Regions from separate parts of the Homo sapiens genome. Here region 2 is linked to region 1. Evidence: fine-mapped expression QTL. A gene starts in region 1. The other region holds a variant in brackets. All regions are shown on one strand. Distances are between the middles of the regions.

Region 1 (5,383 bases):
CTTGCTTTTTCACATTTATCTTGTTGGCTGTATTTTAACACACTCTAAGAACGGCCACTTATAATCTCTCATAACCAGAATCCAGTAAGCGTCAGCTATCTTTACAAAGGCTCTTATAAGGCCACCCCAAAAAGTCCTTAAATCAACCAGTGTTCTTAGTAAACACAAGCATACAAACACATGAAATAAACTTCGGTAAAGTGCTGATTTACCAAAAAAGTGACATGATGAAACATTTATTTGATCAGCCATTCAAAAGACTGTATTTACACCCTTAAAAAGGAAACACATGGACTATACTACAAGTCTTCAATGAGTTGAAAATAACAATACACTTATAGAACTGGGGCTACTAAAATATCAAAAAATACTGGTGAAAATAAGCTATTTATTGGTTATATTTATTCCAAGATTAAATGATGTGACCCTTTCCTAAATGTTCTTTCCAACTTATTTTCCCAGAAGTTTCCTTCCATATTTATACAGGTACTGTTCTAAACAAAACAAAACAAAACAAACAAACAACAAAAACAACAAAAAACCTGTCTGTTTGCATTTCCTGTTTTCTTCTTCTGAAACACTTTTGATGCTTATCTGAAGTAAGGCTTCAACATCCCTTACGTATAAAGAGCAGTGTTTTTTTAATATGCATTACTAGAGAGCAATACAAGTATTTCTGGTAATCTTCAACTTAGTACTAAGAATACCACGGTGAAAAGTCAGCTCATAAAAAGCAAAGAGACCACATTAATTACCAGAGCAGTAACTTACTGTTTCTGTTACCGTAAGTAACAGAAAATAAAGCATTAAAAGTCTATTAAGTTTCAGGCTTGTACAACCTTATTAAACAAGAAATGTTTTCAGTTGTTGGCAACAACAACTGCTTTCATTAGGAGTATATATGTCAACTAACCTGGAATACATTTTCATATTAAATAAGTTAAAATTGCTGTTTCATTGTATCAGTACAGACACTTATGACTCTATTTCTGCATTGTACCACAAAATACAAAGTCATCCTTCCATTCAGAGTTTTGGCATATGAACAAACATAGAGGTCAGAGTTCATACACATGCTCTGTAAAACCGACCATGACTTATATACTACTTTCAATAAGTCTGTTGTCATTTTTGAATTTTAAATAATTTTTTCTCCATGTATACTCATCACATACTTAGAATGCTGAATTTCACAAATTATTATTGACACTATTAAAGTACTAACTGTAAAAGAAAAACACAAATAGCAATGATATATTCAATAATGGTATGTGAATCTTGAAAATAATCATTTTCTGTATTACTTTTTGTTTAATTCATGTGGGGAAGACAATCTGGCATTCTTGTTGATCTTGGTATGAGAAACTGTACTAATACTTGCATAATTTTGAGTCAAATTACTAGAGCACTGTGAATATCTTACATAAATAAACGTAGTACAAATGTATCTAAATTCTGCAGGACTTAAGAGCAACGGGAGGCAACTTTTTTGAAAATCTGTTAAGTCGTGATAAATCTCAATAAGGAGATGAAACAATGTATTAATCTGGTGAAATTTCACATTTTTAATAGGTCTGCTTTTCAAAAGTAAGAATCAAGTTAACTATGAGGGACATCATAATGAAGTTTCGTGGCACAACACGAGTCACAGAGGCACTGTCTTAAGACAGTCTCTCTGATCTGTAACTTGTAAACAATATTTTGAAATAAGCTACTCATACATTCCATTATTTGTTTCCTAACTAAAAATATTTACATGTCTTTAATACACCAAACACCTTGCCTTTGCCCACTCAAAAGATTGAGATGTCAATAAAGATGAGGCCTAGGAATTTGGGGGTTAAGTGGAAAAGAGATAATTATCTTATTTGGAATTAACTTGCTAACTCAGGTGAAAATTCCCTTACCCCTGCCACCAAATAAGACAGTATTCTATTATGTCTCCCTTTGACTCCTAACACCCAACTAAGAAGGACTAACTCTGAATGTCCTTCCTTTTTAATCAATACCTAAGGACTCACTGCTCCTTCCCCAAGAAAAGAACAGTGAAGGCCTGACAGGCAATAACCCCGAATACCCTCAAAAGTGTGGGCCTTCGAGCAGCACTGCTCTTGGGATCCAGTTACCACCTTTCCCCTTCCCCCAACCCACTTCCCGGGTTTTCTCAGGCTCGGCCTGCTCCCTCCCCACCCCACAGCCACATTTCCAGCTGCGGCCACCGCCTCGGGTTCTCTTGTGAGCTTCCATCCCTCCGAGGAGTTGCCCCCTGTCCATCACCTCCCCAAACCATGTTCCACCCCAGACCACCCGCCCGCGAGACCGTCCATCCTAGCGCTCTGGGAGGGGAGGGGAAGGCGGCGGAAGGAGGAGGGGAACACTGCTGCTTCCTCACAGGCAGAAGGGCGGCCGCAAGGAGGACCACCCAGGGACTACCGGGGATATCGGGGTCGCAGCTGGGAGGACCCTCCCGCCCCAGGCAGAGGTGGGGGATATCCGGGAGTTCATTTCTGACCTCCTCGCTCTTCAGCACCTCCTTGAACTCCCGCTTGATTCGCTGCACCGCGATGTTGGCCATGTCTCCGCCCGCAGCTGATTCGTACCCGCCTCCTCCGCCACCGCTACGACCACCGCCACCGCCGCCACCTCTTCCTCCACCGCCTCCTCCCTCGGCGATTCAGACCTGAGCACACGAACACTGCCACTACCACCCCGGCCGCCGCGCTCGCCTCAGTGTGGAATCACCTCCGCGCCCGGCCACCAAAATGGCGCCGGGTCGGCGCATGCGCACGACGTTGACCCGGCCGGGCGGCGCAGCCGCTCCCGTTGGAGCCCCCATACGCCCGAGCCACGAGCTCGCGTCTCGGCTGGGGCTGCGGCCGCGTGGCTCCGCCCTGCCGGCGTCTGGGGCCGCGAGGGTGCGGCTTCCAAGCTGGCCGGCCCTAGCCGGCCCCCCCGGCCCTTCCCGGCGCCTCCGCTCCTGTTTAAACCCGGGTGCTGTGGTCTGGGCTTCCAGCGCTGGCCTCTGACCGAAGGTTCGGGCGCAACCGAACGGGTTTCCGACGCCGCACTCGGCTGGAACGCCGCCCTGACTCAGCTAGACCCGGAACCCGGAGGCTGAACGCCGTGTCTAGCGCAGGAAAACGCTCTCCCGGATCTCGGTCCGGCCCATTTTCAGTTGGTGTAGCCCCAGAAAATCTACTGCAGTCGTTTTTGTTCTGCAACATTTATAGTACCACGATTATTCCCATCATCTCAGGTAGCACAGATTATTGAATTAAGGCTGGTTATTGTTGGATCAGATTGGGTTTGAGACAGGTACTCGGTGGAGAGGCCTGAGGGTGGGTTTAGAAGCCAGATGTTGCTCTTTGACCTATTTAATACCGAGCTTGACACACACACACAATCTCTCTCTCTCTCTCTCTCTCTCTCTCACACACACACACACACACACACACACACACTCCTATGCCCATCCCTAGAGTGTAGGGTGGGCCTAAGACTGCGCTTCTAACAAGTCTCCCAGTTGCTGCTGCTGTTGGTGCTGGTTCCGGGACCACATTATGAGAACCACTGAACTGAATGAAGCATGTGAAAATTCACATATATTAAAGTGAAAATTGGAGAAATGGAAACAATTACAGTACCCTTCAGGGGACTCGGGGTGGGGGAGGGGGAGCCTTATTTCTGTAAACCTAGGCCTCAAAGGTGCCTGGTGATAGTAGGCACTCAATAAATATTGAATGAGTAAATGAGTACAGATAAGACTAAAACGTTTTTGCTGGCGCGGCGGATCGCTTGAGGTCAGGAGTCCGAGACCAGTCTGGCCAACATGGTGAAACCCCATCTCTACTAAAAATACAAAAATCAGCCAGGTGTGGTGGCAGGCACCTGTAATCCCAGCTATTCTGGAGGCTGAGGCAGGAACATCGCTTGAACCTGGGGGTCGGAGGTTGCAGTGAGCGAGATCGCGCCACTGCACTCCAGCCTGGGCCACAGTGCAAGATTCTGTCTCAAACAAAACAAAACAAAACAAAAAGTATAAAATATTTTAAGTGGAAAGTAAGTTTGAAAGTGGTTTCTGGGCCAGGTGCGGTGGCTCACGCCTGTAATCCCAGCACTTTGGGAGGCGGAGGCGGGCGGATCACGAGGTCAGGAGATCAAGACCATCCTGGCTAACACGGTGAAACCCCGTCTCTACTAAAAAAATATAAAAAAAATAGCTGGGCGTGGTGGCGGGCGCCTGTAGTCCCAGCTACTCGGGAGGCTGAGGCAGGAGAATGGCGTGAACCCGGGAGGCGGAGCTTGCAGCGAGCGAGATTGCGCCACTGCACTCCAGTCTGGGCAACGGAGCGAGACTCCGTCTCAAAAAAAAACAAAAAACAAACAAACAAAAGAAAGTGGTTTCTGGTCGGGCGCGGTGGCTCACGCCTGTAATCCCAGCACTTTGGAAGGCCGAGGGGGAGCAGATCACTTGAGCCCAGGAGTTTGAGACCAACCTGGGCCCTATGGTGAAATCCTGTCTCTAAAGATAATAATTTTTAAAAAAGAAAGTGGTTTCTAAGGTGCATAGTAATAATGGTTTGGTACTGAGAAGCATTTTGAATAGAACATTTTGGAATAAGTAATAAGGGTGTCATTTCAGAAGTTTATACTTCATGCACTTTCTTCACCTAGCCAATCAGTAAAATATCTATTATAAAAATATCACAAATACATGGTTTTACCAAAAGTAATTAAAATTGTGGTGGCAAACATGGAAATAGCCAATGGAGGCGAATCAGTGGGGGCACAAGGCAAAAGAGAATTTCTTAAACTCCCGCCCCAGGAACCAAGAGGAGATTTTAAAATTCCAGTTCTCTCCCATGGCAGTTCTCTTGCCAGCTTTTATTTCCTCATCTACGAAACGAGAAAACTGGATTAGATTATCTCTCTCAAGTTTTAAGAGTTCAGAATTCGAAAATATCATCTCAAAACATTTCCCCTAAGTGGGCTGACATAAATTATATAAACCCTTCTAGCAGAGCCCCCTAGTGGTCCTAAGAGGACTCAACCATATACGTAGGTCATGGTACAAGGAATTATTGGTGTAATGTAAATCACGCAATGCTATATGTATTTGTGCCAGTAGACTTAAAAAAATTATTTTGAAGAGTGCAAAAACTTTTTGAGCACTTTACATTATCACTGTCCAATCCTAATCTTGGAATGTGAAGAAACTTGGAATACTCAAAGGGGGACCAGTTAGAAGGGTCCAGGCCGGGCGCCCTGATTTATGTCTGTAATCCCAGCACTTTGGGAGGCCGAGGCGGGCGGATCGCTTGAGCTCAGGAATTCGAGACCAGCCTGGGCAACATGGTGAGACCCCCGACTCTACTAAAATACA
Region 2 (5,383 bases), 63 kb before region 1:
CCTGCCTTGGCCTCCCAAATGCTAGGATTACAGGTTTGAGTCACTGCACACAGCCAGTTTTAATAATTAATTGTAAGAAAATTAGTTCAATAATTGAGGTCAGGCACGATGGCTCACGCCTGCAGTCTCAGCACTTTGGGAGGCTGAAGCAGGTAGATCGCTTGAGCCCAGGAGTTTAAGACCAGCCTGGGCAATGAGGTGAAACTCTGTCTCTACAAAAAATTAGCCAAGTGTGGTAGCACGTGACTGTAGTTACAGTTACTCAGAAGGCTGAGGTGGGAAGACCAATTGAGCCTGGAAGGTTGAGGCTGCAGTGAGCCACAGCACTCTAGTCTGGGTGGCAGAGTGAGATTCTGTCTCAAAAAATAAAAATAAAAATAAATATCCAAACAAAACCTATTGATATAGTTTGGATATTTGTCCTCTCCAAATCTCATGCTGCAATGTAATTCCCAGTGTTGGCGGTGGAGCCTGGGGAGAGGTGTTTGGATCCTGGGGGCAAATCGCTCATGAATGGCTTAGTGCCACCCCATTGGTGATGACTGAGTTCATGTGAGAGCTGGTTGTTTTAAGTGTTTTGGCTGGGCGTGGTGGCTCATGCCTGTAATCCCAGCACTTTGGGAGGTCAGGTGCACAGATGATCCGAGGTTGGGAGTTCGAGACCAGCCTGACCAACATGGAGAAACCCCGTCTCTACTAAAATTACAAAATTAGCTGGGTGTGGTGGCACATGCCTGTAATCCCAGCTACTTGGGAGGCTGAGGCAGGAGAATCACTTGCACCCGGGAGGTGGAGGTTGCAGTGAGCCAACATCGTGACATTGCACTCCAGCCCGGGTAACAAGAGCGAAACTCTGTCTCAAAGAAAAAAAAAAAAAGTGTTTTAAGGCTGGATGCAGTGGCTCATGCCTTTAACCCCAGCAATTTGGGAGGCCAAGGCGGGTGGATCACTTGAGCCCAGGAATTCCAGACCAGCCTGGCCAACATGGCAAAAGTCTATCTGTATTAAAAACACAAATATTAGCTGGGCATGGTGGCACGTGCCTGTAATCCCAGCTACTCAGGAGGCTGAGGCATGAGGGCACGAGAAGTGCTTAAACCCGGGAGGTGGAGGTTGCAGTGAGCCAAGATTGCACCATTGTACTCCAGCTTGGGCGACAGTCTCCAAAAAAAAAAAAAAAAAAAAAAAAAAAGTGTTTTTTGGCCGGGTGCGTGGCTCACGCCTGTAATCCCAACACTTTAGGAGGCCGAGGGCAGATCATGAGGTCAGGAGTTCGAGACCAGCCTGGCCAACACAGTGAAACACCATCTCACTAAAAATACAAAAACTAGCCAGGCGTGATAGCACGCACCTGTAGTCCCAGCTACTCAGGAGGATGAGGCAGGAGAATCGCTTGAACCCAGCAGGCGGAGGCTGCAGTGAGCCAAGATTGTGCCATTGCACACCAGCCTGCTCAACAGTGTGAGACTGTCTCAAACAAAGTGTTTTAAAAGTATGTGGCAACTTCCCTGCTCTCTGTTGCTTCCACTCTATTTTCTACCCTCATGATGTGAAACAGGCTCCTCTTTCATCTTCTGCTGTGATCATAAGCTCCCTGAGGCCTCACCAGAAATTGAGCTGATGTTGGCACCACACTTCCTATACAGCCTGAAGAATCAGAAGCCAAATGGAACCTCTTTTCCTTATAAATTACTCAGTTTCAGGTATTCCTTTATGGCAATGCAAAAACAGCCTACCACACCTATTTTTCTAACCCTAAATACTATAGACCAGGAGTAGGGGGTCAAGTCTGTAATCTTAGCACTTCAGGAGGCCAAGGTGGAAGGATCACTTGAGGCCAGGTGCTTGAGACCAGCTTGGGCAACATAGCAAGACCCCATCTCTACAATAAGTAAATAAATAAAATAAATTTCAAGATTTATTATTATTATTATTATTATTATTTTACTGAGATGGGAGTCTCGCTCTGTAGCCCAGGCTGCAGTGCAGTGAGGCGATCTCGGCTCACTGCAACCTCTGCCCCTCCAGGTTTAAGCGATTCTCTGCCTCAGCCTCCAGAGTAGCTAGGATTACAGGCGCATGCCACTACGCCCGGCTAATTTTTTATTTTTATTTTTAGTGGAGACGGGGTTTCACCATCTTGCCCAGGCTGGTCTTGAACTCCCAACCTCGTGATCCACCCACCTCGGCCTCCCAAACTGCTGGGATTATAGGCATCAGCCACCACATCCGGCCAGCAACCGGCCTAAAACTTTAAAAAAAAAAAATGAATACTATAGAAACTGTATCTTCGATAATATAAAGAAATGTGTGCAATTTTGGACTGCTCTAATCTAAATTCAGTAATGTGAAAAAGTATATAACTGAAAACATGCTTTTGTTCCATTTCTTCTTCTATTTACAAAGTAGTGATCAAATCTATATTGTACTGATATCTTTAGGATCAGTATATACAATCAACTTAAATCTATTATAACAAATCCTAACAGGCAAACAGGAATATGAAATTTCAAAATGTGTCAATCTTTATAATTTAGAAGATAATATGAATAAATCAGTACCTCATAAATCTATGTCCGGTAAATAAAT[T/C]TTGCTCAAGTCTCAAATCAGTAAGACATAGTTAATGTGGCTATGTAAATATTCATATATTCATTCATAAGGACTCAGGCCTTACTATGTAGAATAATCATGTGAATTGTTCATACCGTTGACTAACTTTTCTGTTAAGGATCTTCCAACAGATCATCAATAATTAAACCACGTTCATTCAAAACACTAAATGCTACTTAAAGAGGATGGCAGCTTTTATACTAAAGATTTTATTTTTTAAAGAGATTGGGTTTCACTATGTTGTCAAGGCTGGGATGCAGTGGCTATTCACAGGTGTTATCTCACTATTGACTAGCACAGGAGTTTTGACCTGCTCTGTTTCCAACCTTGTCTGGTTCACGTCTCCTTAGGCAATCTGGTGGTCCTCTGTTCCTAAGAGGTCACCATACTTATGCCCAACTTAATGTGGACACCTGACTGGCATAGCACACTTCAGCCCAGACTTGCTGGTCTTAAGCAATCCTCTTGCCTCAGCCTCCTGAGTAGCTGGGACTACAGGTGTGCACCATTGTACCCAGCTGCTATAAATTTTTTTGTTAAAGTTTAAGCAAAGTTAAGATACCATGCAGCTGGATGAATTTTTATATCTGTATATATCCATGTAACCACCGCCTGGATAAAAATAGAGTATTTTTAGCATTACAAAGCCTCACTTCTGCTCCTCCTACTCACAACTCCTGCCCACCCTCACCACTATCGTATTTTTTTATTTGTTTTAATTTTTTTTAATTTTAATTTTTATTTTTTGAGACGGAGTCTCGCTGTAGCTAATTTTTTGTATTTTTAGTAGAGACGGGGTTTCACCGTGTTAGCCAGGATGGTCTCAATCTCCTGACCTCATGATCCGCCCGCCTCGGCCTCCCAAAGTGCTGGGATTACAGGCGTGAGCCACTGCGCTGGGCTATCGTATTTTTTATCACCATAAATTCTGGTTCATCTTCAATTTCATAAAAATTGAACCATACAGTATGTATTCTTTTGTGTCTGGCTTTTGTCACTCAACATGACTGAGTCTCATCCATGTTGTTTGTGTCAATGATAGGCTCTTTTTTACTGTTTATGTAGTGCTCCAGTGTGTGATCACAATGTATCAATTTTCTTGTTGATGAGACATCTAAGTTATTTCCCGTTGGGGCTATTAATAAATCTGCCATAAATATTCTTTTATACATGTCTTTTAAAAAGTAGGCATAGACACTAATTTCTTTTAGATATATACCTAGGAATGAAGCTGATAGGGCATACTGAAGGTGTATGTTTAGCTTTGGTAGATATTACTGGCTTTAAGTGGTTAAACCACATTATTTGTTTTTTTTTTTTTTTCTGTTTTTTTTTTTTTTTTGTGACAGAGTCTCGCTCTGTCACCCAGGCTGGAGTGCAGTGGCGCGATGTCGGCTCACTGCAACCTCTGCCTCCCAGGTTCAAGAGATTCTCCTGTCTCAGCCCCACGAGTAGCTGGGATTACAGGTGCCCACCACCCACGCCTGGCTAATTTTTGTATTTTTAGTAGAGATGGGGTTTCACCATGTTGGCCAGGCTGGTCTTGAACTCCTGACCTCAAGCAATCCACCTACCTTGGCCTCCCAAAGTGTTGGGATAACAGGCATGAGCCACCGTGCCCTGCCTGGTTAAGCCACATTCTTACCAGCAATGCATGAGGTATTTGTGTTTACAGGCATGTAGTAGTTATCTTATTGTGATTTTCATTTGCATTTCCCTGATGAGTAATGATGCTGAGCATACCTTATCGACCAGGCAGATATTCTGTGCCTGTTTGTGTCTTTTAGAAGGGCAGCGTCACTGAGTGAAATTTTTATGTGTTGCCATTTTCTTCCCCAGGTAAGTAGACACCATTAGTCATAGTAAGTGTCAGTGGAAAACATTAGAAAATAGTTTCCACACAGCACAAGTTGTGGAATTAAGAAATAAACCAGGGGCCGGGCACAGTGGCTCACGCCTGTCATTGCAGCACTCTGGGAGGCCGAGGCCAGTGGATCACCTGAGGTCAGGAGTTTGAGACCAGCCTGGCCAACACGGTGGAACCCTGTCTCTACTAAAAATAGAAAAAAATTAGCTGGGCGTGGTGGCACATGCCTGTAATGTAATCCCAGATACTTAGGAGGCCGAGGCAGGAGAACTGCTTGAGCCCGGGAGGCGGAGGTTGCAGTGAGCAGAGATGGCACCATTGCACTCCAGCCTGGGTGACAGAGCGAGACTTTGCCTCAAAAAAAAATAATAATAATAAACAAATATACTAAAATAAGTTAAATATTAATAAAGGTATATCATCACCCCTAGATGCATTAATAAAAGACCAAGATTAACCAATTATTTTCTAGTATGCCTGCTGAAAATTATTTATGTAATTCATTTTTCCTATGATTAAGACTCTGTATTTTTCTCTATCAAATTCCAGTTCTGAAACCTAAACATCCACATTTAAATATGGATATGCACTAAATGTCAATTATACCTCAGTAAAGCTCTGGGAATAAAGTAATGACTTCATGAATATCTAGTCTCACCTATTTTATCTAATGTGTCTTTGGTATATTCTAATATTTCAATTGTACAGATAAAAAACAAGATTATTCACCTGCCTTAGGAAAAGGGAATAGTTGATGTAAAAAATGTTTTGTTCCTGCACATCATATTAGGAGAAAATGTTTTGGTATAAAAATTCAACTTCTCTCTCTATATATACACACCATAATCTTTCAACTAGCTATATAGGAAGATAATTACAAGTAATAGTACTGTTGGCTTAACTCTG

Evidence for each region. PIP is the estimated chance that this variant, and not a neighbour inherited with it, causes the effect.
Region 2: its variant is fine-mapped to the expression of UBE2K in whole blood (INTERVAL, PIP above 0.99).

The regions. Positions count from the first base shown.
Region 1 is chr4:39,695,520-39,700,902 of GRCh38, reverse strand. It overlaps UBE2K (ubiquitin conjugating enzyme E2 K), which reads right to left and starts at 2,767. Exons shown (of 7, transcript NM_005339.5): 1 at 2,513-2,767. The coding sequence starts at 2,575. RefSeq lists a silencer at 2,784-3,073 and an enhancer at 3,154-3,213.
Region 2 is chr4:39,758,746-39,764,128 of GRCh38, reverse strand. All of the region lies in intron 4 of UBE2K (ubiquitin conjugating enzyme E2 K), which reads right to left. It also overlaps the pseudogene RN7SL558P. Among named protein-coding and RNA genes, the nearest start is that of UBE2K, 63 kb to the right of the region's middle. The variant T/C (reference allele first, on the strand shown) is at 2,590.